4 linked regions of the Homo sapiens genome follow. Changing the gene in region 2 together with the main gene of any one other region gives a genetic interaction. Each region holds a gene or a part of one and is shown on either strand. Other genes may lie near its edges. The genes, in order: SMARCB1, PTP4A3, INA and DAPK3.

What was found.
Region 1: changes in PTP4A3 (region 2) and SMARCB1 together harm fitness less than expected from each alone (positive genetic interaction), as found in Homo sapiens cells (one study listed by BioGRID).
Region 3: changes in PTP4A3 (region 2) and INA together harm fitness less than expected from each alone (positive genetic interaction), as found in Homo sapiens cells (one study listed by BioGRID).
Region 4: changes in PTP4A3 (region 2) and DAPK3 together harm fitness less than expected from each alone (positive genetic interaction), as found in Homo sapiens cells (one study listed by BioGRID).

What each region holds. Positions count from the first base shown.
Region 1 is NC_000022.11:23,783,155-23,789,999, reverse strand, and holds the start of SMARCB1 (SWI/SNF-related matrix-associated actin-dependent regulator of chromatin subfamily B member 1), read right to left. Parts: upstream 3,035-6,845; 5' UTR 2,831-3,034; coding exon 2,738-2,830; intron 1-2,737. Other genes in the region: MMP11 (stromelysin-3 preproprotein), read right to left, coding at 6,456-6,589.
Region 2 is NC_000008.11:141,387,347-141,395,020, reverse strand, and holds the start of PTP4A3 (protein tyrosine phosphatase type IVA 3), read right to left. Parts: upstream 3,001-7,674; 5' UTR 2,937-3,000; intron 2,614-2,936; exon of another isoform or gene 2,400-2,613; intron 1-2,399. UniProt on the Homo sapiens protein: Protein tyrosine phosphatase which stimulates progression from G1 into S phase during mitosis. Enhances cell proliferation, cell motility and invasive activity, and promotes cancer metastasis.
Region 3 is NC_000010.11:103,280,110-103,287,143, reverse strand, and holds part of INA (alpha-internexin), read right to left. Parts: intron 110-7,034; coding exon 1-109. UniProt on the Homo sapiens protein: Class-IV neuronal intermediate filament that is able to self-assemble. It is involved in the morphogenesis of neurons.
Region 4 is NC_000019.10:3,957,929-3,961,109, forward strand, and holds the end of DAPK3 (death-associated protein kinase 3), read right to left. Parts: coding exon 3,081-3,181; intron 2,177-3,080; coding exon 2,131-2,176; intron 1,710-2,130; coding exon 1,173-1,709; 3' UTR 525-1,172; downstream 1-524. UniProt on the Homo sapiens protein: Serine/threonine kinase which is involved in the regulation of apoptosis, autophagy, transcription, translation and actin cytoskeleton reorganization. Involved in the regulation of smooth muscle contraction.

The sequences.
Region 1 (6,845 bases), on a different chromosome or scaffold from region 2:
CCGGCTTGGTAAATACAGCTGTCTGTTAATGGCAGAACAGTGACACACACTCTTAGTAAATGCAGATGCCTTCCCAAGACAGCTCCACAGATGGCGCATGGAGGCACTGGGTATGTTGCTATGGCTGGCCCACCTCTCTGAATACAGTGCCTGTTTTCCACAGGGCAGTGGGCTGAGACCGTCCATCCACTACTATCACTGGAGCTACTGAATTTCAATAGAGCTCTGACCTTGAACTCTTCCCTAAACTCCGAAGGTCTGATGATTAAGTCAGGCCCAAAAGAACAAACTGCCTCTCCAACTGAGTCTCTTACAGCCTGGGTCTCAGGAAGATTATTCTTACTGGGAGGCCCAGGAGTCAAGGGGCTGAAAGACAAGACTGTAATTAGCTTTCTAGAAACTAAAATGTGTTTTGGGGAAGATCTTGGAGACCATCTAGTCTAAGCATCACATTATACACATGAGAAACACGACAGCAAGGCAGAGCAGGGCTGGAACCAGGCCTCCCAAGGTTCTTCCCACTTGGCCACGCACAGCTTCTCAATTTGCTCCAACTAATAAATGAAAGCTTTCTTTTGAAGTGTCACCTACTTAGAGCCAAACTGATTACTTTTACACCCATTAGATCAGGTAAACAACTCGCCTAGTATCACAGGCTGAAATTTGACACCTTTTGCATTCTGCAGTTAGGCAGGTGCCTACTGGCCAATGAGGACCATTCTGAACTGTGGCAGATGGACAGGCACTGGCTCTACCTCCCCAGCACTGGCATCTTTGAACAGTTGTAATTTAAGTGACAACGTGAAAATTTTATTGAATCCTATATTTTTTGTTTTATAAAAATTAGTGGAGGCCAGGCACAGTGGCTCACGCCTATAATCGAGCACTTTGGGAGGCCGAGGCGGGCAGATCACTTGAGCTCACAAGTTTAAGACCAGCCTGGACAATATGGTAAAACCCCATCTTTACTAAAAATATAAAAATTAGCCGGGTGTGGTGGTGTGTGCGTGTAGTCCCAGCTACTTGGGAGACTGAGGTGGGAGGACGGCTTGAGCCTGGGAGGCGGAGGTTGCAGTGAGCCGAGATTACACCACTACACTCCAGCCTGGGTGATAGAGTCAAACCTCGTCCAGAAAAAAAAAATGGTGGAAAATGCTAACACTAAAGTTCTGATGCTATTGACCTTAGTCTCATCCATGGGACTCAGTGTGACCATCTTGAGGCTTCATTCATTCATGCTATGCTCAATTGTGAAGGATAAAACCCACAAGTTTAAAAAGTATGAATGCGCTGAGTGTGAGTGCAGTAGCTCACACCTGTCATTCCAGCACTTTGAGAGGCTGAGGTGCAAGGATCACTTGAGCCCAGGAGTTCAAGACCAGCCTGGGCAACATGGCAAAACCCTGTCTCTACAAAAAATACAAAAATTAGTCGGGCACGGTGGTGCACACCTGTAGTCCCAGGTACTTGGGAGGCTGAGGCAGGAGGATCGCTTGAGCCCAGGAGGTCAAGGCTGCAGTGAGCCGAGATCACACCACTGCACAAAGTGAGATCTTTTTTCAAAAATAAAAGAAAATAAAGTACGAATAAAATGCTGGAATATGATACTAAAAACTGCTATAAGGAGAAGAAACTCTTGGCATTTCATGATAGCTTTAATTCTCCAGGATTGGCACTTACTTCCTTACATGAGATTCTACTGCTTGACATTTGTACATCTGAACTGTATATCCATAATTTTTTTAAAAAGGTAACATATACTAGCTGGGGACTGCCTTTGGAGCAAAAAAGGCTAGTTTGAGACAATCTGTAAAAACCTAATATATGGCCGGGTGTGGTGGCTCATGCCTGTAATCCTAGCACTTTGGGAGACCCAGACGGGCAGACTGCTTGAGCCCAGGAGTTGGAGACCTGCCTGCGCAACATAGCCAGACCCTGTCTCTATAAAAAACAAAAAACAAGAACCTAATAGACTTGGAACAAACACCCATTCAAAGGCCAGTAGAGTTTTCCTGAAGTCAGTCATCCAGTTGATGCAACAAAATGCAGCCACTCTAGTTAAGGGTTAAACATCCTTAGGCTCTTTCCCCTGTAATAATTCAGAATCAGTTCACAGATATGGAAAGTGTCAATCGCTTCAGAACTGCTGAAAGATCTAGCTTAGGCATGGGGCCCTTATTCACCCAAAAGCAAACATCTTCCTCCAATCTGTTTCTTCACCGGTAAACAAAGGTCAAAAGACCTCCACTGCTCACCTAAGAGGCAACAAACACAATGGGGATGAGCCCTCACTAAGTCCAGGGTTTCCAGCCTGCCATTTGAGGTTCCCACAAGTAGCAATACGGGGAGGGGTGCACGTGAAATTTACGACATCTAAAAAGGGTCAAAGGCAGCAGTGCAGTCCCCCAAGCGTCGCAGGGGCTAACTCAATATCCCGTTTCTTTGCGTCTGACTGGAAACCAACCCAGCGCGGAACCACTGGGGCCCCTCGCGGCGCCAAAATCTTGGCAGCACTGAAGGCGGCGGACCTCGGCGAAATAAGTAAGGAAATCCCAGGTCGATGAGGGGGCGGGGGCCACACCCGACACGCCCACTAGGCCACGCCCCACAGCCCCGAGCGCGCGCGCGCGCGCCCGCCCGCCCCGATGAATGGAGACGCGCGCTCTCGGCGCATGGGCCCGCCCCGGGGCTCCCGCGGGGCCGAGCCCGGGGAGGGCGAGAACGCGCCCCGGGCTACCTCGGAGCCGATCATGTAGAACTCGCCGTCGTCCTCCAGCTGGAACTTCACGGGCTTCTGCCCGAAGGTCTTGCTCAGCGCCATCATCATCATTGCGGCGGCAGAGGCGGGCGGCCGGAGCCGGGCTGCGAGGGATCAGGAGGGCTGGGGCGGGGCCGGGGCGTGCTGGGCCGAGGGAAACCGAAGCCGGAAGGCGAAATGCGGACCGGGCCGGGTACTGGCGCCTCAGCCGGGCTCCTCAGCCGCCGCCGCCGCCGCAGACGACGACCAGGCCGCCCTCAGTGCGCAGGCGCTGGCGTTGACGCTGACGCGCGCGCCGCCGCTCAAACAAAAGGCCGGGCGCGCCTCCGCGGACCCCTTAAAGGAGCCACGACTAATTTCTCTTTCTCCCAGGCTGCCTCCCAAGTCGTGGTGTAGAGGACTTCTCACGGACAAAAATAGCCAATGAGGTCCTGACTCAAGCAGTGGCTTTCCCAGTCTTACAGCCAGGACTGGAACTGAGCCCAGGGGAAAAGCAACGAAGTGAGGCCTGAAGGAGGAGGACCTAGTATCTGGAAGCCTGGGTGGTCTGGGCATGCTTTGGGACCCCAATCTCGTGCCTTAGCTTCCCCACCCCTAAAACGCAGTGCAGCTGAGCAGATAGGCAGGCCCCTAGGAAGAGATATCCCAGTTCCGGGCCTACGGCTGTCCCTGCAGCTGTGGAGGTGGGCAAAATGACAACAGCGGATGAGGCTTGGCAATGTTCAAAGGCCCAGGTGGTATTTGGTTTGGCTGGTGCATCAGATGAGCGTTGGAAGGGAGAGACACCTTCCACCTTCTCCATTCCTCTCTTAGCCTACACTCTGCTTAACCGAGCCCTGCAGTGGGGAGTGAAACCAGGCAGCCCAGCCCTGTGGCTCTGCCTCTTGGCTCTTACAGCGCGAAGCTAGTGAAACTAATGAAAGTCTGAAAGCAATCATGATTGAATAATGCAGGGAGTAAAACAGTGGCCCACTACTGATGATTTCACACCGTTCAATCTAATGAAATTGCAGCTGTGGCTGGGCTCAGCGGCTCATGCCTGTAATCCCAACTCTTTTTTTTTTTTTTGAGGCTGGAGTCTCCTGCCTCAGCCTCCCAAGTAGCTGGGACTACAGGCACCCGCCACCACGCCCAGCTAATTTTTTGTATTTTTAGTAGAGACAGGGTTTCACCATGTTAGCCAGGATGGTCTCGATCTCCTGACCTCGTGATCCGCCCCCCTCGGCCTCCCAAAGTGCTGGGATTACAGGTGTGAGCCACTGCGCCCGGCCTTGTAATCCCAACTCTTTAGGAGGCCAAGGCAGGGAGGATCACTTGAAGCCAGGAGTTTGAGACCAGACTGGACAAGACAGCAAGACCCTGTCTCTACAAAAATTCTAAAATAAATAAGCTGGGTGTGGCATGGCGGTGTGCACCTGTAGCCCCAGCTACTTGGGAAGTGGAGAGGGGAAGATCCCTTGAGCCCAGGAGTTCAAGGTTATAGTGAGCTGATTGCACCACTGCACTGCAGCCTGGGCAACAAAGGGAGACCCTGCCTCTCTTAAAAAAAAAAAAAATGCAACTATGCTATTACGAAGACACACATGGGGCTGGAAGGTAGGGCAAGGAGACACTGGAGAGTTGGGAAGGGCAGTGACTGAAGTTGCTTTGTTCTGTATCCTCACAGTGGTGGGAAACCAAAGTACAGTCATCCCTCAGTATCCATGGGAATTGGTTCCAGGACCCCCTGCAGATAATAAAGTCCACAGATGCTCAAGTCCATTATATAAAATGGTGTCATACTTGCATATAACCTACACACACTTTCCTGTATACCTTAAATCATCTCTAGATTCCTTATACTACCTAATACAATGCAAATGTTATATAAATAGTTGTTATACTATTGTTTAGGGAACAATGATAGGGAAAAAAGTCCGTACATGTTCAGTACAGAGGTAACCATCCCTTATTTATTTATTTATTTATTTATTTATTTACTTATTTTATTGAGACAGAGTCTTGCTCTGTCGTCCAGGCTGGAGTGCAGTGGCATGATCTGGGCTCACTGCAAGCACCGCCTCCTGGGTTCACGCCATTCTCCTGCCTCAGCCTTCCGAGTAGCTGGGACTACAGGCGCCCGCCACCACGCCTGGCTAATTTTTTGTATTTTTAGTAGAGACGGGGTTTCATGGTGTTAGCCAGGATGGTCTCGATCTCCCGACCTCGTGATCTGCTGGCCTCAGCCTCCCAAAGTGCTGGGATTACAGGCATGAGCCACTGCACCCAGCCTATTTATTTACTTTATTATTTTTTTAGACGGAATTTTGCTCTTGTCACCCAGGCTGGAGTGCAATGGCACTATCTCAGCTCACTGTAACCTCTGCCTCCACGTTCAAGTGATTCTCCTGCCTCAGCCTCCCAAGTAGCTGGGATTACAGGCATGAGCCACCACACCCAACTAATTTTTGTATATTTAGTAGAGATGGGTTTTCACCATGTTGGCCAGACTGGTCTCAAACTTCTGACCTCAGGTGATCCACACACCTCGGCCTCCCAAAGAACTGGGATTACAGGCACGAGCCACTGCGCCCGTCCGCATCCTTTTTTTAAACATTGTTTTTTCTACCCGAGGTTAGTTGAGCCTACGGATGCAGAAACCACAGCTATGTATGGCAGGCTGGGCTGTGGCATGAGCAGATAAACCACCACTCTGGAGGATGAACAGAGGGGACAAGTAGGAAAGTGGGGAGCCAGTTAAGAAGCCACTGTAGCAAAATGTGATGTAGAAATGGAGCAGAAGGAGCCCTGAGCACTGTGCCCAGCCCCAAGGGCCAGAGGCTTGGGGGTGGTGGACTTCGACCCTGGCTCCCAGGATAGGGCTGGACAGTGGCCAGGCCTCCCCATCCTGGCTGAACATTCACAAAAGGAGACCAAGCAGGCAGGTAGAAAACAACTGTGTTTAATGACAATCCTCAGTTTAAAAAAAAAAAAAGAAGAAGAAGGTTTATACACACTGTACACACATTTACAATGGCTTTGGAGGATAGCAGTGCTGCGAAAAGGGCTTCAGGAGGATCCGGCCTGGGACAGGATTGAGGTATGTTGCAGCCTCCAGGGCCTGGGGTCTCCTGCATGAAGAATACCCCTCCCCATTTGACTGTGAACTTTTTGGCCTGGATTCTGGAGAACAGATTTCCAGGATTGTCAGCCAGAAGGCAGACAGATGCAGGCACCTACCAAGACCTGACCTCAGGAAGTGGCCCTGCCCTACAGCCCAGTTGCTCAGCCAGGGCTGAAGGCCATGGGGCCCCAGCACCCTTGCTTCAGTGCCAGCCCCTGGAAGGAACCTCACAACAGGGATACAGCAAGGACACTCCAGTTCCCCCAGTCCTGCCATGGTGCTACCCTGAGGGACAGGGATGGAGACAGGGCAGCCAGGTTTGCCAGGACCTGCATAGCGGGCCCAAGACTGCCCTTCCTCTTAAGTCATGCCAAAGCCTCCCTGCCCAGTCTGAGACAGTCGCTGGCAGGTGACCACGACCTGCGTGGCCCTCCCGGCAGTTGTCATGGTGGTTGTACCCCACCCCATCCCCCTGAGGAGACATGGGCTCAGTCCCATGCCTGGTGCCCACAGCCACAAAGATGGCCATGGGTCTCTAGCCTGATATTCGTGGCCTGGCAGGGGTCAGCACCCCTGAGGGCATCCAAGCCATGGTCAGAGGAAAGTGTTGGCAGGCTCGGCACAGCCAAAGAAGTCAGGACCCACGAGACGGGGGAAGCCTTCCAGAGCCTTCACCTTCACAGGGTCAAACTTCCAGTAGAGGCGGCCGCGCAGGAAGTAGGCATAGCCTGAGAAGAGAAGGTGGTCAAGCCTGGGCGAGCGGACACTGGGCCCTACTCCTGCCTGTCAGGCTGTGCCCAGGGATGGGCACTAAGGGAGGGCTGAGTGGGAAGCCCTTGGCCACTGCTGAGTTCCTCGAGTCCTGCAGGATCCAGGGCCGGCCTTTCAGAACCTCTCTTCCCTCTAGGGAGCCCTTCTGCCTGCCCCGGAATCTGGGCTGGGCTAATACCCAGCCTGACAGGTACCCAGAGCCTCAGAGGCCTG
Region 2 (7,674 bases):
CCCTGTCCCCGTCCCACCTTGGGGAGGCCCCCCTCTCTCCAGGGAGGCTGGCCTACCCGACTGGCAGGCGTGGGGCACACTCTGGGCCGCCCCCAACCGCACACACCCAACTCGCGGGGCGCCGAAGTCAGGCGGCGGCGATGCCAACCCGACCACGTAACTGTGCGAAGTGCAGTACCTCCTCCTGCAGCCCACAGCCACTCCCACCCAACTCTGAACTGTGCAGAGAGGACGGGGCTCATCGGCCCTCGGACCTTGCCCAGGTCCCTGCCTATGGGTCCTGCGAGCCGGTCCAGGTCAGAAGGAGGGATGGGAAGTCTTTTTTACCTCACACATGTTCACCCGTGTGACCAAGCTTCACCACTGTCCTGCCAGGAAGACCTGTCATTGCTCCCATTTTACAGGTGTGGAAACGGAGGGGCAAGAAACCAAGTATCCAGCAAGACACTGGGAGGCCAGGCCCTCCTGCCTCTAGCCCAGCCTCGGGCTGCTGCACTTGCTAGGAAACACCACTGCAGGCAGGGAGGGGTGCCAGGGACCAGAGGGAGTAGGTGACAGCAAGGGCGGCCAGGGTGGAGGTGGGGAGAAACGGTGCTCTCGAGGTGAGAAAGCGCCCTGGGGTGGTCTGGGACAGTGACCATCTGGTTACAGCCTTTGGTCAGATTTGGGACCTTCATGGAACAAGGCAAGCCCAAGGTCTTGGGGGGCGAAAAATCACCACTATCTGCCAGCCCCAGGCCCAGGAGCTCCCAGCTCAGCCCCTCTGGCCAAATGCCACCTGGACACCAGCCTGGTACACTTTCCACTTAACTCACCCTTTCGCCAGGACCTGCCAACCAGGGAGAGGCCTCCCCAAGCTGTATCACCGCCATCTGGATGTAAGTCCCTAAGGAGGTCACGTGCATAGGCATTGGGCACCAGCGGACACTCTGCCCACCCTGGCGGTGAGAGGGAGGGCTCACACCAGCTTATGCCCCCCTCTCAGTCTGACTGTGTGCACCTCTGCCCAAGTCCTCAGCCAGTAAAGTCACGTCTGTGTAGCTTGGGAGTAGTTACACCACAGAAATTGGCCAATGCCAATTCAGGATTTGGTTAAGCATCTGTTAAGCATGCCCTCATGTCATCTTTGAGCCCAGCCACCCATGGTGCCTCCAAGACCTCCTCGCCATCCAAACTGCCCACTTGTCTGAGAAAGCTGCCCACCTCCCGGCCTTCCTCCTGCCTCCCATGTCCAGTGCCTGACTGCATCAGCCAGCCACCCTCACCATGTTCTGGGCTGTTACTTGGGACAGAGAGGGGACCAGCTGAGGCCCCCAGCCTTACTCCAGTGGTCAGCGCAAGCTTCCGGGAGGAGGGCAAAGGCAGAGAGGAGCAGGCAGCTGAGGAAACCACCTGGAGGCTGCATCTCATCCCCGCCTGCATTTTCTCCCATCACGCCGACTGCCTGCGGGGGCCTGTCCGCAACCTGCCCCGCTCAGCCAGCCAGCCATGCCCCATCTCCAGGTCCAGCATTGGGCCTGGCACAGAGTAAGTGCTTGGAGAACACGTTGGGGGTGTTGAGGGGTGACCAGCTCCCTAGCGGGGCTATTTGGAAACAGCCCAGGAATTCCTACACAGGGCAGCTTCTCCTCCTTCGTAACCACAGTGAGGGGGGCCGGCGTGGTGATGGGGAGATCCCCAATGCCTAATTCCACTCAGGTGACAGGTTCGGGGCCCATTTACAGCAGCTCCAACGCCCCCTTTGCAGATGGGGACAACAAGGCTCTGCTTAGCCCCGCAGGCTAGGGGCTGCACCAACTCCACCTTTGTGGGCCTCAGTCTCCTCATCTGAGAAATGGGGTTAACGAACTTCTTGGGAGGATTGCAGGAACTCAGTGAAGCACGGCTCTGCACAGGGCTGCCAGGCGGCTTCTGTCTGTGCAAGGCCACAGGCACCCTGTGTTCAGTGACCTCCTCTGGTCTGCAGCCGAGGACACTGCTCCAACCTGGGAGCAGGGCCCCCAGGGTCCACAGACTAGGTGGATGCCCAACACCCACCATCGTGTGCGGGGCACACCCCAGAGCCCGCAGGCAGAGAGAGGGGGTGCAGCACGTGCCTTTCTGTCTTGGCTGAGGGTGCCCGGGCACACACTGTGACCAGCTAGCCTGGACCTCACGCTGCCCTTGGAGCCGCTATCACAGAGGGCCAGGGAAGCCTCCCTCATAAAGGGCTTCCCTCCGGGAACCGGCAGGGTGAAACTGCTCTGCCCACTTGGAGCTAAGCATGCCACCACCCCACCCCTGGGCCACCAGCTGCCCAGGGGCGTGTCAGGAGTCACCCGTTTAATCCCTGAGGCACGTGGATCAAGGCTGCTGACCTGATTCTACCGGGGTGTGCTTGGAGGGCTGAGGCGCCGCCCGAGTCCCAACACTGGTATGGTCTGAGGCGGACTCCACCCGGCCTGAGACCTGACGCTCTGCTTTCCCCTGACCTCCACTGACATCTACGACCCGCCCTGGAGGCACGGAAGGCTGTGGGGTTCCAGCCCCCCAAACTGTGCAGCTGAGGAAAATGAGCCGTGAATGGGGGCAGAGCCAGATCCTGGGCGGGACCCTGCGCAGGATGAACTCAGGGTAGGAGGTCTCCCGCGCACCCAGAAACGGGAGCGGGTCACCCCCTTCCAGCCAGGGGTGTTCTGTGGCTCGCCTGGGGAAACAGCGGCCTCCTGAGGCTCGGCCCCGGCACGTGGCAGCCTCCAGGCCCACGTTCCCGCCGGATCGGCCGCCAGGCGCAGGGTCCCGGGACGCGCGGGCAGGGGGAAGGCGGCGGCCCTCCCGGCTGCGCGGCCCCGAAGCCGTGCCCGGAGCGGGCGGCGGGCTCGCGCGCGGACGGCCCCCCACGCGCCTCCACAAAGCGCCGCGCGCCCCCGCCCCGAGCGGGCGCGGAGGAGACTGACCTGGCGGTCCGGGCGGCGCCGGCACGACGGGTGGAGGGCTCGGGACGCGCGCGCCCTCGCGCACAGGCGCGGCCGCGGCTCCACCGGCTTAGGGCGCGCGCCGGACCCGCTGGGTCACGTGGGGGCACGGCCCAATGGGAGCGCTCCCCACGCCGCGGCCGCGCGCCCGCCGCCCCCGAGGCCGCCCCTGGGCTGGGAGGAGGCGGCTCCGGTCGCGCGGGCGGCCTCGGGGACTGACCTTGGCTCCTGTGCCTGCCGGGCGCCTAGGCCAGGTCGGCCTGGGGCAGGCGGGCGTCGGAGGGGCAGTTTTGAAGCCCGAGCGAAGAGGCAGAGGGCGGGATGCGGACGAAGCCAGGGAGTTCACGAAACTTCTGGAGTTCTCAGTTTCCCCCTAAGTCGACTGGGGCTAGGTCCCGTGCCGCCAGGCGGGCTGGCTGAGGGGATGGGCTGGGGCGACAAGACGGCAGCCGCCTGGCCCGGGTACTTGGGGTCAGACCGGCTTCGAGGCCCCCGGACCGCCGTGTTATCAGGACGGGTAGGGAGCCCACGGGACGCGTGGTGCTCAGAAGAGCGGGGAGGCGTGTGGACGGGGCCTGCCCGAGCTGCACCACCGCCTGCCTCCAGGCTGCGAGGCCCGCCCAGGCGAAGGCGGCATCTCAGCCTCTAGCCCTTGGGGACCTTGAGGACGTCCTCTTATGGGTCAGCCGTTCCTAGGGAGGCTTGTGGCTCCAGTTACTGGAAAAACCAGTGCTGGTTCACGCAGGAGGCCCCAGTACAGGGGGAAACAGAGGCAAGCTGGGGTCTCCCAGGCGGCCTCACCCACCCAGCCCTGTTCCATGCCAGTCCCTGGACCCTTGGCCCAGTCAGATGTTCAACTGCTCCAGCCCTGCCTCCACTTCCCTGAAAGATGCTTTTCCACCCATCCACCCTCAGCAGCCAGAGGGACCCCGGGAAGATGGGAGTGAGAGCTGCCTTCGTCTGCAAAAGTCTCCAGACACCACCTCACTGGTGAAGGCCAGAGACCCTAAACTGTCCCAAGACCACCTGACTGGGCTGCCTCCCTGCCACCTGGCTGCCAGCCTCTCTCAGAGCGCCTGCAAGCTATTCCTCCAACCCAGAGTTTCCTTCCCAGCTAAAGGCCTTTGCACCTGCTGTTCCTTCTGCCTGGAAGTTCACCGCAGACTATCCCAGGGCCTCCATCCTTCCCATTGCATGGTCCCCATCAGCTGCCGCCGCCTCTGAGAGCTCAGTCTCCACTGGCCATCCTGTCTCTCAGCCCACTGCACTCTCCACTCTGCCAGAAAGTCCCCCAATCAGTGACAACACAGGTCACGGTCCACACCTCACCTGGTTTGTCCCCAGTGCCCAGCATCTGGCACCGAGCAGGTGCGTGCAAATCCTGGACAGGTGGGCAAGCTGATGGTGTCCAGAGGCCCCTGGTCCTTAAGGGCAGGGGTGGGGATGGCTCAGAGGACATAACCTTGCAGACCCGGGTTCAAATCTGGGCTCCTCAGCTCATTTGGTCCTCACACAGCCCATGTTGGGAGAGCTAGTGTTCTCCCTGTTTTGCTGATGAGACACAGAGAAGGTCAGCAACTCCCGAAGATTGCCCAGCAAGTTGGGAGTAAAGCTGGTGCAATTCCCACGTTTAGCTGCTAAACAGGGTGTCCTGTACTTGGTGTGTTCAAGCAGAAATCCACACATGGGAAGGTCAAGGCAACATCCCTGGTACTCCAGCTTTGAGGTCCTAGGAAAAAGGGAACCTCCCATTAAATGCTTCTATTGCCGGGAAGTTCAGCACCTGTAAAAGCAGCCCCTTCCCGTTTCACTGTGGCTGCATTTTAATTCTTATTTTTTAAATGTTTAGCTTAAGGCCGGGCACAGTGACTCACACTATAATCCCAGCAATTTGGGAGGCTGAGGCGGGAGGATCACTTGAGCCTAGGAATTCAAGACCAGCCTAGGTAACATAGTGGGACCCTATCTCTACAAAAAATAAAAAATTAGCCAGTCATGGTGGCATGCTCCTATAGTCCCAGCTTGGAGATTGAGGTGGGAGGATCACCTGAGCCTAAGAGGACAAGGCTAGAGTAAGCCCTGATCCCGCCAGCACCCCAGCCTAAGTGAAAGAGCGAGAGCCTGTCTCAAAAAAGATAAAAAAAAAAAAAGCATTAATAAATAAATGTTTGGCTTCATCTAGCCTGAGCAGCACCAACACCCCCTGCCTGTTTCATGCTATTTTCCTCCTCTCCTGCCCAAAATCTCAGAGAGGTTTCTATCCCAGCCACCCAAATTTGCTGGGGTGAGTGGGCTCCCGAGAGGCTGGAGCCTCCTTCCTCCCCACGCTCTTACCATCCTGCAGGGAGTCGGGAGCAAAGGAGGAGGCTCCTCCATGCTGGATTCATTTCAGTTCTCAGACATTCACCGAGTGCTGACCACATGCCAGGGACTTACACCCACCCACCAAGTCCACACTGAGCCCTGCAGAGGAATCCCTGACACCCCCATTTTGCAGATTAGGAAGCAGAAGCTAAGCGAAAGCAGAATCAAGATTCAAACCCAGGCACGGTGAAACCAGAGCTGTCCAACTGCTGTGAGTGGAATGGGCCGGGCATGAACAGGCTTGGGGAGAATCCTGGGATTTCATAGCCGGAAGAGAGCTCAAAGTGATCGTGTTTTACAGAGGAGAAAACGGGGCCTCAGAGATGATGGCTGAGCCGTGAAAAGGTGGGGTCAGAAGCCAGGCCCAGTCTCCTGAATTCCAGACTCCAGAATCTCCCCCAGGATTGAGGAATGTTCCACAGAAAGAATCCCAGCTCCACCTACCCCAGTCACTGGACCTGCCCAGCCCTGGAGGCATGGCCAGGAGGAGGCCCCCGCAGGTGGGGGATTGTTGGAGAGGGATGCCAACCATGCAGGACGATCTAGACAGTGGTGAGGCCCACTGGGGCTGGCAGGATTAGCAGATTAGCTCCAAGGAGGACAAAGACGAGGTCAGCGTTAAGTGGATTTCTGGAAAGCCTCCTCCAGCCCAGCAGGGCCCTACAGGAGGGGCCCAGGCTGGGGGACCTAGATCCAGCCACGGAGGGCATGGGTGGGCTAATGGCACCAGCAGCAGCTCTTGAGCCCCCATCACTGGGCTGCACACTTTGACCTCTCCTGGCCTCAGTTTCCCCATCTATAAATGTCATAGTAATAGCTCCAACCTCACAGGGCTCTTGGGAAGACCCACAAGATGGTGGCTGTCAAGTGCTGCGTTGCTTCTGCCTGCGCAGAAGTAGATGTCTTTATGACTGTCCTTTTGAATCCTCCTCAAGCCCTGAGCGTCAAACAAAATAAAAAAGAGCTTGTTGTTCAGTGGTTAGTTAGGTAAACAGGAGCGGGGTGCAGGAGTATACATCTAGGAAGAGAGTAAGTGTGCGGAACGATGCTCTCTGGGCCACTTCACGTCCCCTCTGTTCCCTGATTTCAGTGGCAGTGGCCCATTCTGAGCGAGCTTGGACCCTCCTCCTCAGTGCCTGCCTTCCGTGTGTACCAAGCCCTGAAGGGCAGAGGAGGGCCAGCCCTCCGCAGTGTGGCAGGGCTCTGGCGGATACACCTGCCTCCCATCTGCAGAAGGACCTTCCTCAGGTGTCCGGCACACTTCTCAGGAGGTCCTGAAACCAGCTGAGACCTCCATAACACACCTGTGTTGGCTCCCTCACCTGGTCATCACAAATAAACCACCTGCACCAATGTCCCTATCTCAGGCTCTGCTATCGAGGGAACCAGCGTAAGCAGCCACGCCCCTGATGCGAAGAGGAAGCAGGGCTTGAGGGAGGCCAGGACTCGGGGGATTGGCGTGCAGGAGCTGGGAAAGTCATTTTCATTTCCCTCCTTCCCCTAGTTTCGTTAATGCAGCCACGCTACTGTGATGGTGACATTTTCATTTGTGTATTAGTTGTGCCTGTAAAACCTGCTCTCTCTCCGCGTCTGTGGTCAAGAGTTCTGAGTGGCTGGGCGGGGCGGTTCTCTGGCTGGGGTCTCATGAGATGCAGTCAGATGGCCAGGGTTCCAGACATGCAAGGGCCCGACTGCGGCTGGGGGATCCCCTTCGGAACCCTCTCACTGTCCCAGCTGGCCAGGCCATGCAGGTTATTAGCTGCTGCTTCAGAGTCTTCCTCAAGACGCCCCTCTGTAGGGATGCTTGGGTGTCCTCCCAGTGCTGGGGCTGGCCTCCCCCACAAGGAGCTACCCAGGAGAGCAAGACACGTGTGATCTGACCTCAGAGGCCACCCAGTGCCACCTCACTGTGTTCTGTGGGGCACCCAGGCCTGCCCTGACTTGGTGTGGGCAGGGTGGGGCGGCTTCCCAAGCCTGCAGCTGGTGCCACCTACAAGGATGAGGGAAGGCCACTGCAGGCTGAGCTCCGGCCCCTTGGGGGCTGGGGTGGAGGTATGGCAGTGCCTGACCTGGACTTCTGAGACCACCAGTGAGGTAGGGTGTGGGAGTTTGGTGGGACACTGAGCTGGGACCTTTGCAGCAGTGGGGCTACCCTAAGCCTGGATGCTCTAGCTGTGTCGCCCATTGGCAGCTGAAAGCGCTCCTGGCTCCCCCTGCCCCTGAGTTTGGCAAACTTTCATTGAGCACCTGTGCCAGGCATCACTGGGACCTGCAGCGGGAGCCCCCCTAGACAGTGCTGCAGCTACTGTCGTGGGGGCATCCAGGAGGCACGTCCCAGGCACTGCATCTGAGCAGG
Region 3 (7,034 bases), on a different chromosome or scaffold from region 2:
CAATGTCAAGAGCCATTTTGACATTGAGCAAGTCCTGGTATTCCCGAAGGTGGCGTGCCATCTCACTCTTGGTGTTCCTCAGATCATTCTCCAGCTGCCCAATGCTATCCTGAAAAGTAACATATCCAAAATAGTTAGGCCAAACCAGCTGAAATTCCTCAAGATTTCCAGAAGGCAAGGATTCCCAGCCCTGACTACACATTAAAATCATCTAATGAACTTATAACTTGCTTATATCCAGGTCTGTCCCTGAGTCCAGATCCAGATTCACTGGTTCTGGGGTGGGGTCCCAGCATTTGCATTTTTTTCATAAAGGTCCCCAGGAGATTTGGACTCATGGTGAGGACTGGGAACTTTTACCCAGAGGGCAAGTGAACACCTGCCCTTTTCAGGATAGCCACACGGCATATAGTTCTGAACTGAACATGGAGATGATTTTTTTTTTTTTTACACTTACCATCCCTCCCTTGCTTGTTGTGTTGCTGCTAAATAACTCTGTTGTAGCATGTGCTTTCCAAAACCCAAAGCCTCAGGTTAGCAGCTTAGATTCAGAAAATTCCGAATGTGGAAAGCACAGAGAGCTTTCCAGGAAGACCTCTCTGCCTCCATTCATTTTGATGATTTCCTAGAAGCCTGCTAATCAGTCACTTTACTGAGAGCATTTTACATTATAGGTAAGGAGAAAGCAGAAATACTCCACAGAATTTTTAAAACACCGAGGCATGGAAGAGAAATCGCTTTATATTTATATATTTATAGTCCTTGAGCAGCCAGAAGGAATTCTTTTTTTTTTTTTTTTTTTTTTTTTGAGACAAGGTCTTGCTCTGTTGCCTAGGCTGGAGTACAGTGGTGTGATCACAGCTCACTGCAGCCTCAAAATTCCTGGGCTCAAGCGATCTTCCTGTCTCAGCCTCCCAAGCAGTTGGGACTAACAGGTGTACACTACCATGCCTGGCTAGTTAAAAAAGATTTTTGTTTTGTAAAGATGAGGTCTCATTATGTTGTCCAGGCTGGTCTTGAACTCCTGGCCTCAAGAGACACTCCTGCCTTTACCTCCTAAAGTGCTTAGATTACATGTATGAGCCACCATGCCCAGCCTGGTCTTTTCTTTTACTCCTTAACTATACCAAGTTCATTGCTGTCCCAGGCCCTTCAGGCTTGTTATTTCCTCTATCTAAAATGCCGGTCTTTACATGGCCGACTCCTTGTCATAGAAGATTCAGTTCACCCGGGTGTGGTGGCTCACACCTGTAATCCTAGCACTTTGGGAGGCTGAGGCAGGCAGATCACCTGAGATCAGGAGTTCAAGACTAGCCTGGCTAACATGGCAAAACTCCGTCTCTACTAAAAATACAAAAATTAGCTGGGTGCAGTGGCATGCACCTGTAATCCCAGCTACTTGGGAGGCTGAGGCAGGAGAATCGCTTGAACCCAGGAGGGGGAGGTTGCAGTGAGACGAGATCGCGCCACTGCATTCCAGCTGGGCAACAAGAGCGAAACTCCATCTCAAAAAAAAAAAAAAAAAGATTCAGTTCAAATGTCCTCTCCTGCCAGGCATGATGGCTCATGCCTGTAATCCCAGCACTTTGGGAGGCTGAGGTAGGAGGATCACCTGGAGTCGGGAGTTCGAGACCAGCCAGACCAACAAGGAGAAACCCCGTCTCTACTAAAAGTACAAAAATTAGCTGTGTGCAGTGGCAAGCGCCTGTAATCCCACCTACTTGGGAGGCTGAGGCAGGAGAATCGCTTGAATCTGGAAGGCAGAGGTTGCAGTGAGCTGAGATCGTACCACCGCACTCCAGCTTGGGCAACAAGAGCAAAACTCTGTCTCAAAAAAGATTCAGTTCAAATGTCCTCTCCTGCCAGGCACGATGGCTCATGCCTGTAATCCCAGCACTTTGGGAGGCTGAGGCGGGAGGATCACCTGGGGTTGGGAGTTCGAGACCAGCCAGACCAATATGGAGAAACTCTGTCTCTACTAAAAATACAAAAATTAGCCGGGCGTGGTGGTGCATGCCTATAATCCCAGCTACTAGGGAGGCTGAAGCAGGAGAATTGTTTGAATCTGGGAGGCGGAGGTTGCAGTGAGCCGAGATCGTGCCATTGCACTCCAGCCTGGACAACAAGAATGAAACTCCATCTCAAAAAATAAAATAAAATAAAATAAAATAAAATATAATGTCCTCTCCTCAGACAGGTCTTCATTTGCATCCAATTTAAGTATCCATCCTCGACCAACCCAGCACTTTATTTTACCTTAAGCCAGAGCAGCTACTGGCCCATGCAGGAACCTTGTGCAAATTAGAAAAAAAGCACTCAGTTGAATGCAGCCACCCTGCTCTCAGCTCTTACCATTATATGAAATTATCTTCTTCTTTTTTTTTTTTTCCGAGATGGAGTCTTGCTCTGTTACCCAGGCTGGAGTGCAGTGGCGCAATCTCAGCTCACTGCAACCTCCACCACCTGGGTTCAAGTAATTCTCCTGCCTCAGCCTCCTGAGTAGCTGGGATTACAGGTGTGCACCACCACACCTGGCTAATTTTTGTATTTTTAGTAGAGATGGGGTTTCACCATGTTGGCCAGGCTGGTCTTGAACTCCTAACCTCGTGATCCGCCCGCCTCAGCCTCCCAAAGTGCTGGGATAACAGGCATGAGTCACAGTGTCCGGCCCCGGCAATTTACTGGTTTATACTAGTTTATTTTCTGTTGCTTTCCTCTATAACAGAGTTTTACAACTTTGGCAGTGTTGATGTTTTAGGCTGGCTAATTATTTGTTATTGTGAAATGCGGGATATTTAGTAACATCCCTGGCTAGATGCCAGAAGCACATACTTCCCTCTCCCAGTTGCGATAACAAGAAAACATCTCTAGGGCATCCCAGCACTTTGGGTAGCTGAGGCAGGCGAATCACTTGAGGCTGAGCTGAGAGAATTGCTCGAGCCCGGTAGGCGGAGGTTGAAGTGAGCTATGATGGCGCCACTGTGCTCCAGCCTGGGCGACACAGCAAGACCCCGTCTTAAAAAAAAAAAAAAAGACACAATGATTGGGGGTTATTTTTAAGAAACAGTCATGCAGGGCCGGGCATGGTGGCTCATGCCTGTAATCCCAGCACTTTGGGAGGCTGAGGCGGGTGGATCACCTGAGGTCAGGAGTTCAGGTCAATCAAGAGACTGAGACTATGCTGGCCAACATGGTGAAACTATGGTCTCTACTAAAAATACAAAAATTAGCTGGGCGTGGTGGCGTGTGCCTGTAATCCCAGCTACTCTGGAGGCTGAGGTAGGAGAATCACTTGAACCTGGGAGGCAGAGGTTGCAGTGAGCTGAGATCGTGCCATTGCACTCCAGCCTGGGCAACAAGAGCAAAACTCCATCTCAAAAAAAAAAAAAAAAAAAGAAACAGTGATGCAGATAAACATATCAGAAACCTCAAGAAAGTAAGTGTTGACAGGCCCTTGAAACTCCCCTTGTGTGAGAATGATAAAGCAATGGTGAAAGGTAGGGCTGAGACATCAGGGGGTACAAACTTCCAAATCAAGAGAATTTGCAGAATTAAAATTCATACCACCTACCTGTTCTATAAATATTGACAGGAATACTGCAAAGAGGAGTCTCAATTGACTGATGGGTACAGAACAAGGAATGACAGTCAGTAGGAAAAATACGTATTATACTGGACCGTGATGCATATATTTCAAAGTGTGTTAAGAGATCATGAGGCCTTAAAGAGATTTTTACCAAGAAATTTTACCTGATAGTTCCTATTTGAGGTTATAATCAATTCTGCTACTGACATAGAATCACTGACATAGACCCTCTAGCTACTGACAAGAGAATCAATATTACTGTGGTAAGAGGGAAAAGAGTCTAGAGTGAGGGAAAAAGGAGAAAGAAGAAAATATGATTATGCAAAGAAGGAGGAGGAATGCTATATGAAGATAAGAGGAGGATTTCATCAGGAACTTGGGTTGCAGTTTTTGCTCTGCCACTAACATCCATTGGACCTCAGCCAGTTTTCTACATTTTAGTTCCTTCCAATCTTCTACTTCTGCATACGGAAAGTTATGTTTACTCTTTTTCTAAGGTGTTCTGAGATCCTCAAATTAGGATTTCAATTTAATATATCTCACATATACATTAATATATGATGAGTCCATTATCTGTTAAATTAGTAGGCATCAGAACAGCATGGCACACAGGAAGAACTCAATAAATGTTAGTGATTTTTATTCTTGATAATATCATACCACATGGCCCTCTATCCTTTTGATGATATAGACAAATTAATCACAAGCCCTCACTATTACCAACCCCTTAGATAACTACGAAAAGTAACATATAACAACACTTTAATATTGGATAGTTGGAGGCATATACCTTAAAGCACCAGATTTTTTTTTTTAATAACAATTTTGAATAAAAAGCCTTTCTAAAGTGGCTTATACCACTCACAATCAGGACACTAAACATAATGCCACCTTCCACAGCAATTAAGGGTCATGATAATAATCAATTTTAAAAATAATTCGGTGACATCTTTTAGGTCATTCGAGGTATATCAGGCTGTTTAATTCTACCCTAAATGGCCCCAAAGTGCGGTGTTTGGATTAGTGTTGATGCTCATTGATTTTCTTTGTTCTGAAAGATGAACGGATCTGCTGCTGCTCATTCTTAACAATGCCTGACTCCAGTGGTCCCCATTCTCCATCTTGCTGCAGTCTTGAAACCAAATAAAAAAGCATTTTGAAATCGTGTTAAGAATGAATAGGCTGGGGGCAGTAGAGGTGCCAAGTTCCTAATGTTTGGCTTAGAGATAGATGATATGTCTCATCAGCAGGTTAATTAGGTCCTTGCTTAAAACATTATTTTTGTTTCACAGCTGTGTTTTCTGAATAAGAGGTGGTTGGGGAGCTGAGTTCTAGACAGATGAGATTTCCTTGAACTTCTATGTTGCAGATTTCATATATCTATTTTACAGATCACTGTAGAGAAAAGCACAACTTTGCTCCTTTCAGAAGGAAGTGTGCTGTGTTCTGACCATTGATTGCTCTTCAATGTCTGGTCTCTTTGTTTGTGCTCTCCTCCCCACATCAGGCTGTGTCTTGCATTGCCCTTCAGAAGCCCTGCCAAAGATGGCCTCCAGCTCGAGATCTGAGCAGAGCGCTGCAGTCTGTCCCCTCCCCCAACCACGCAGCTGCTGCCGGCTTAGCCTGAGGGAACCGGAGAGCGGCACGCCCAGCTCCAGCTGGGGTCTCTCCTGGAGGAGCTAAGACAAACGCTGAGCATCGTCTTAGCTCGTCTGAGCATCGCAGCCCGTGGCTGGAAGGATGCCGGGTGGAGTAAGAGAAATGAATGGCCACACTAACATCTGCAGTGGTGAAGAAGAACGACAGAGCTGTGGATTTCAGCACGTTTGGGGGCCCTGGGTCAGGGAGGCAGTAGTGAGTGCCCCACAGTCTGATTGAAAGAGGCTATTTAGAATTACTGCTCTGCATAATCAACTTGAGTGGGGACGGAGGATTTTTATTTGTGGTTCACCATGCGTGCTTTATTCTCACTCCTACCTTTCCTTTGTCCCCATCTTTTTCTTTCCTCCACCACACTCGAAAATCCTGTATTATACGTATCTCCGTAAACTACTTTACTGGAAGAAGTGGTTTAGATCAATGTACTCCAAAGTCAGTCTGAGGACCAACAGGATGCAGCACTTTTATTGAAAAATGCATATTCCCGGGCCCTACCTGTGAACTGCTGAATCCATATCTTTGGGAGTGGGCCTGATAATTTTTTTAAGCCCCCAATTGACCTTAGAGTGTCACTGGGTTTAGGATCCACTAGTTTAAATTTTTTTCTATAAAGATGCTATCATGGTAGCCCAGGTGACAGTAATACAGTAAGATAGGGAGGGGCAAACAAAACAAAATGAAACAAAAACCAGGTGGAAGAGCTTAAAAAAGATCAAATGTAGCTAATTTTAGAAATGGATCTATCAAGCTATGGATTTATATGCAGCCACTGTCACCTCCAGTCTCCAAGGGGCCAGCCCCTTCCTGCTATTTAATTAGGCTGTACTCCAATCTCATAATGGAGAAAAAAGAGAAGACTTGGCTTGTCTCCCTGGAGAGCATTAACCTGCGGTGATCTTGATCATTCAGCAAGGTCTTTCAAGGAAAGCTTCAACTTTCCAAGACTGACCACAGTAGAGGTCTGAGACCCTGAGTACCCTCCAAGAATGTCTTTGGACATCTTTAACAGAACTAGGACTCTAATGGTGCCGAAGTGGCTATGTAGGCACCAGCATTGCCCTATGTCAGAAATGGAAACCCCATCAGCTTTTTATGCAGAGGGGAGTTGCATTTGGCTTTTGAAGACAATAGCCTTAGCTCTTCCTAATCTCTTCTCTTGCCTGATTCAGACTCTCTCATCCACTATTGTGTACTTACTGTGTCACCGTGAATCATTTTTTACCCTTTCAAAAGTGTAAGAAGCTTTCTCTCCTTAAATAGGCTATCAGCTATCTGGGGCAGAGAAGATGGGACTTTAATGGGGCCTTCCTATGTTTCATAGAGGGTGCCAAGTTTGAAAAGAAAAATGGCCCTACCACTAATCTCTGTAGCAGAAGAAGGAGAACAGCCTCCCATTACTGCAGTGAAAGGTGGGGATGAGATGAGAGGGCAAGAAAACAATGGCTAAATCTCACTGTAGAAAGGGAGGCTTTTCACCTTGGTCAGCACTGCTAAGATTGTTAGAACAGTCAGAGACACCCTTGTGGCATCAGGCCGTTAGGATCTGCAGGTAAGACTTGAGCTCCACCTTAGCCTTAGGTCCCAAGGAGTAGGGAACCAGCTCTCTGTTGTCTGACCTCCTCTTCCACTCCCATCAGCAGGTCCTCTGTGGCTCTAAAGGCTCAAGCTGATGGGGGCAGCACCGCAGAGCTGCAGATGCTGCAGTTTCTCTGTTGTTGTTTTTTGTTTGTTTCCTGTAGACCATGTCTGGATGACGCTACCATTGTCTAATGATGAAAGCCTTTTACAG
Region 4 (3,181 bases), on a different chromosome or scaffold from region 2:
GAGGTTACAGTGAGCCAAGATCGCACCACTGCACTCCAGCCTGGGCAACAGGGCCAGACTCGCTCTCAAAAAAAAAAAAAAAAAAAAAAGCAAAAAAACTTCCTCCAGGGAGGATGGACAGGGTCGGGGCCCCTCTCTGAAACCACCTGTGAGCCCTAGCAGCTGAGCTGAGCCGCTCCCCCTCCAGGGCCACCTGCATGTGGCTCCAGACGGGGCAGGGGCTCCCACGTGGGACACAGCAGCATCCCGTAAGGCGCAAAGGGACAGGAAACGCTTCTGATCCACCTCAGCTGCCCAGAGCTTCCACCTCATTGCAATCAAAACACTCGGGGCAGCTGAGACCAAGATCCGGCAGCTCCCAGGACACCGTGAAGGTCTGCGAGGACCCCCGGTTTGTCCCCTCCTTCCTGAGCACAGCGGCAGGCATGGAACACAGAGAGAAACATGAACGCCGCGGAGGGCATATCCCCAGTGGCCAAGGGCTGGCTGTCCCCTGCCAAGGCCTGAGGCACACAACACCCGCGTATCTGGAAGCCAGTATTTTATTTCTCTTGGCTGCAGAGGGCCGCTCTTGCCTAGGCGTCCACAGGCGCGACGATGGGGCTCGCGGAGGAGTCCGCAGCAGGGCACCCCACACCCGGGGGACCGGCCTCGGCGAGAAGGGCACACAGTGGAAGACCCCACCAAGCCCGGCGCCACCCAGCAGCGTGGGGACTGCCTGTCCGCCGTCCATCCCACCCTCCCCGTCCCACGACCTCCTCCTGGGCTAATGGCAGCAACAGGCAGCACCCCGCCGAATTGTCCGTGCAACTACCCGCAAACCCTCCTCCGGGCCTGAACCAGGGCTGCATTCGGGCCGCCTCTGCGCCTCGGTGGGTCCCAACCCTCACGGTGCCACAGGCCACGCTGCCTGGAGGGTCCCAGGGTCACCGACGATGCAGGGGTGAAGGTGAAGGCCAGCGTGGAGGCTGTGTAGAGAAGCAGCCCCGTCCCACACCCACCCCTGCCTGCGAACTTACGGGCCTGGCTCCAGCTCCTCCCACTCCGCCTCCAGCCTGGTGGCGCTGGGCAAGGACAGGCACCCGGGCGATGGGAGGCGCAGCGTCCACAGGAAGCGCCCCCACCGCAGGCCGAGCTCCGGCTGTCCTGGGGCCTGGCCCACCCCACTGCGCCTAGCGCAGCCCGCACTCCACGCCCTGCAGCTTCTCCTGCTCCAGGGCGCGCACGAGGTCCTGCACGAAGCGCATCTCGGAGGCTACTTGCTTGGCCAGCGCCTCGTAGCGGTTCTCCAGGCGGCTGAAGCGGCGCTTGAGGCCGCTGGTCCCCAGCAGCGCGCCCTTGGCCTCCTCCTGCGCCTGCCGCTTGAGCGCCTCGGTCTTGAGCAGCTCCTGCCGTAGCCTCCGCAGGTCCTGGCCCAGGCTGTCGCTCTCCTCGCGGTACCAGGCCTCCTTCTCCTCGTAGATGGCGGCCAGCGCCTCCACGTCCTCGTGGCAGAGCCGCCGGCTGCGCTGCAGCTCGCGCAGGCCCTCCTCGGCGGCCGCCGCCTCCTCCAGCACCTTGGAGAAGCGCTCGAAGTCGGCGTAGCTGTTGTTGGGCGGCAAGCTGGAGTGCGACTTGATGGTGTACTCCTTCAGACGCGTGGTCTTCAGGCGCCGCCGCTCGGGCTTGCGGCCGCTGTCCTCACCACGCACGTTCCGCCGCCGGATCGCCTAGGAAGGAGGGAAGCCTGAGCGGGGTCCCCGCGATGCCACCCAGCCCCGCCAGCCCCCACCTGCCAGTGTGAACTGAGGTTCAGGGGCTCATCCGGCAGCAGAGTCAACGCCTCGTGACGGAGACTGCCCAGCCCGACGCAAAGCCGAGAGTGCTCTCTCGAGAAAAACGCTGCGGCCCTGGCCCCAGGAGTCAGCCCCGTTGGACACACACCAGCCAAGGATGCCACCAGGTCTGTCGGGTGCTGGACATCCCACGCCCAGGACCCAACCCCCGCCACACAGGCTCACTCCTCTGGGGACCCTCCCCAGCCACTGGGGGTTGTCACATCCACAAGCCTTAAATGCTGAAGGCCCCCCGGGACCCCAGCGAGAAGGCCAAGGCGGGAAGCCCAGGGAGCTCCCCCACCTCCCCACTTACCTTAATCCAGGAATGTTCCAGGCTCTGGGCAATGGTCATTCTCCGCCTGGAAGACCCCCGCTCTGGTTAGGTACACCTGCACCATCTGTCCCGTCCTCCCGTGAACAACTGACTCCCGGGACCCCCAAAAGCCCTAAAGTCGCCCCCCAGCCTCTGCTCAGCCAACCACAGAAGCTGAACAAGGGTACTGCAGGGAGCGTGGGGTTTTCTGGGGGGTGGTGGAGAGAGCTGAGACCTCAGGCTGGAGTCGCAAACCCAGGCGCCCGAGAGAGGGACTGGGCGGCCATGGAGGCCCGGGGAGGCCTACGAGTGAGGGCTCAGCACTGCCAGAATTCTAAGTGTTTACAGGAAAACAAGTGACCTGGAATTTTACATGGATCCTTACTTTACACACCGGCAACTAATTAAAAGTTTGCTAAAAACACAGCAAGCAGCCAGACACGGTGTCTCACGCCCGCAATCCCAGCACTTTGGGAGACCAAGGCAGGCAAATCACAAACCAAGGAGGTCAGGAGTTCAAGACAAGCCTGGGCAACATGGTGAAGCCCTGTCTCTACTAAAAATACAAAAATTAGCCAGGCGTGGTGGCGGGCGTCTATAATCCCAGCTACTTGGGAGGCTAACGCAGGAGAATAGCCTGAACCCGGGAGGCAGAGGCTGCAGTGAGCCGAGATCACGCCACTGCACTGCACTCCAGCCTGGGAGACAGAGCAAGACTCCGTCTCAAAAAAAAAGACTCCGTCTCAAAAAAAAAAAAAAAAAAAAACCATGGCAATGGCCAGCTTGGGCCACCAGTTTATCAGTTTACTCTCTCCAGCCCAAGGGGTAAGCAATGTCTGATCCCCAGCCGCAGGGAGGTGGCGCTGGGAGGAGAGTCCTCTGGAGCCTCCGTGGGTGGAGTGGGCCTGTGTCCCATGTCCCACCCCGTGCCCCCTGCCGGCCCCTCGTACTTGGGATCTTTGACGAGCAGCCGGCGAATGAAGTCCTTGGCCAGCTCGCTGGTGTTGCTGAAGTACTCCTCGTCGAAGTCGTAGTTCACGGCTGAGATGTT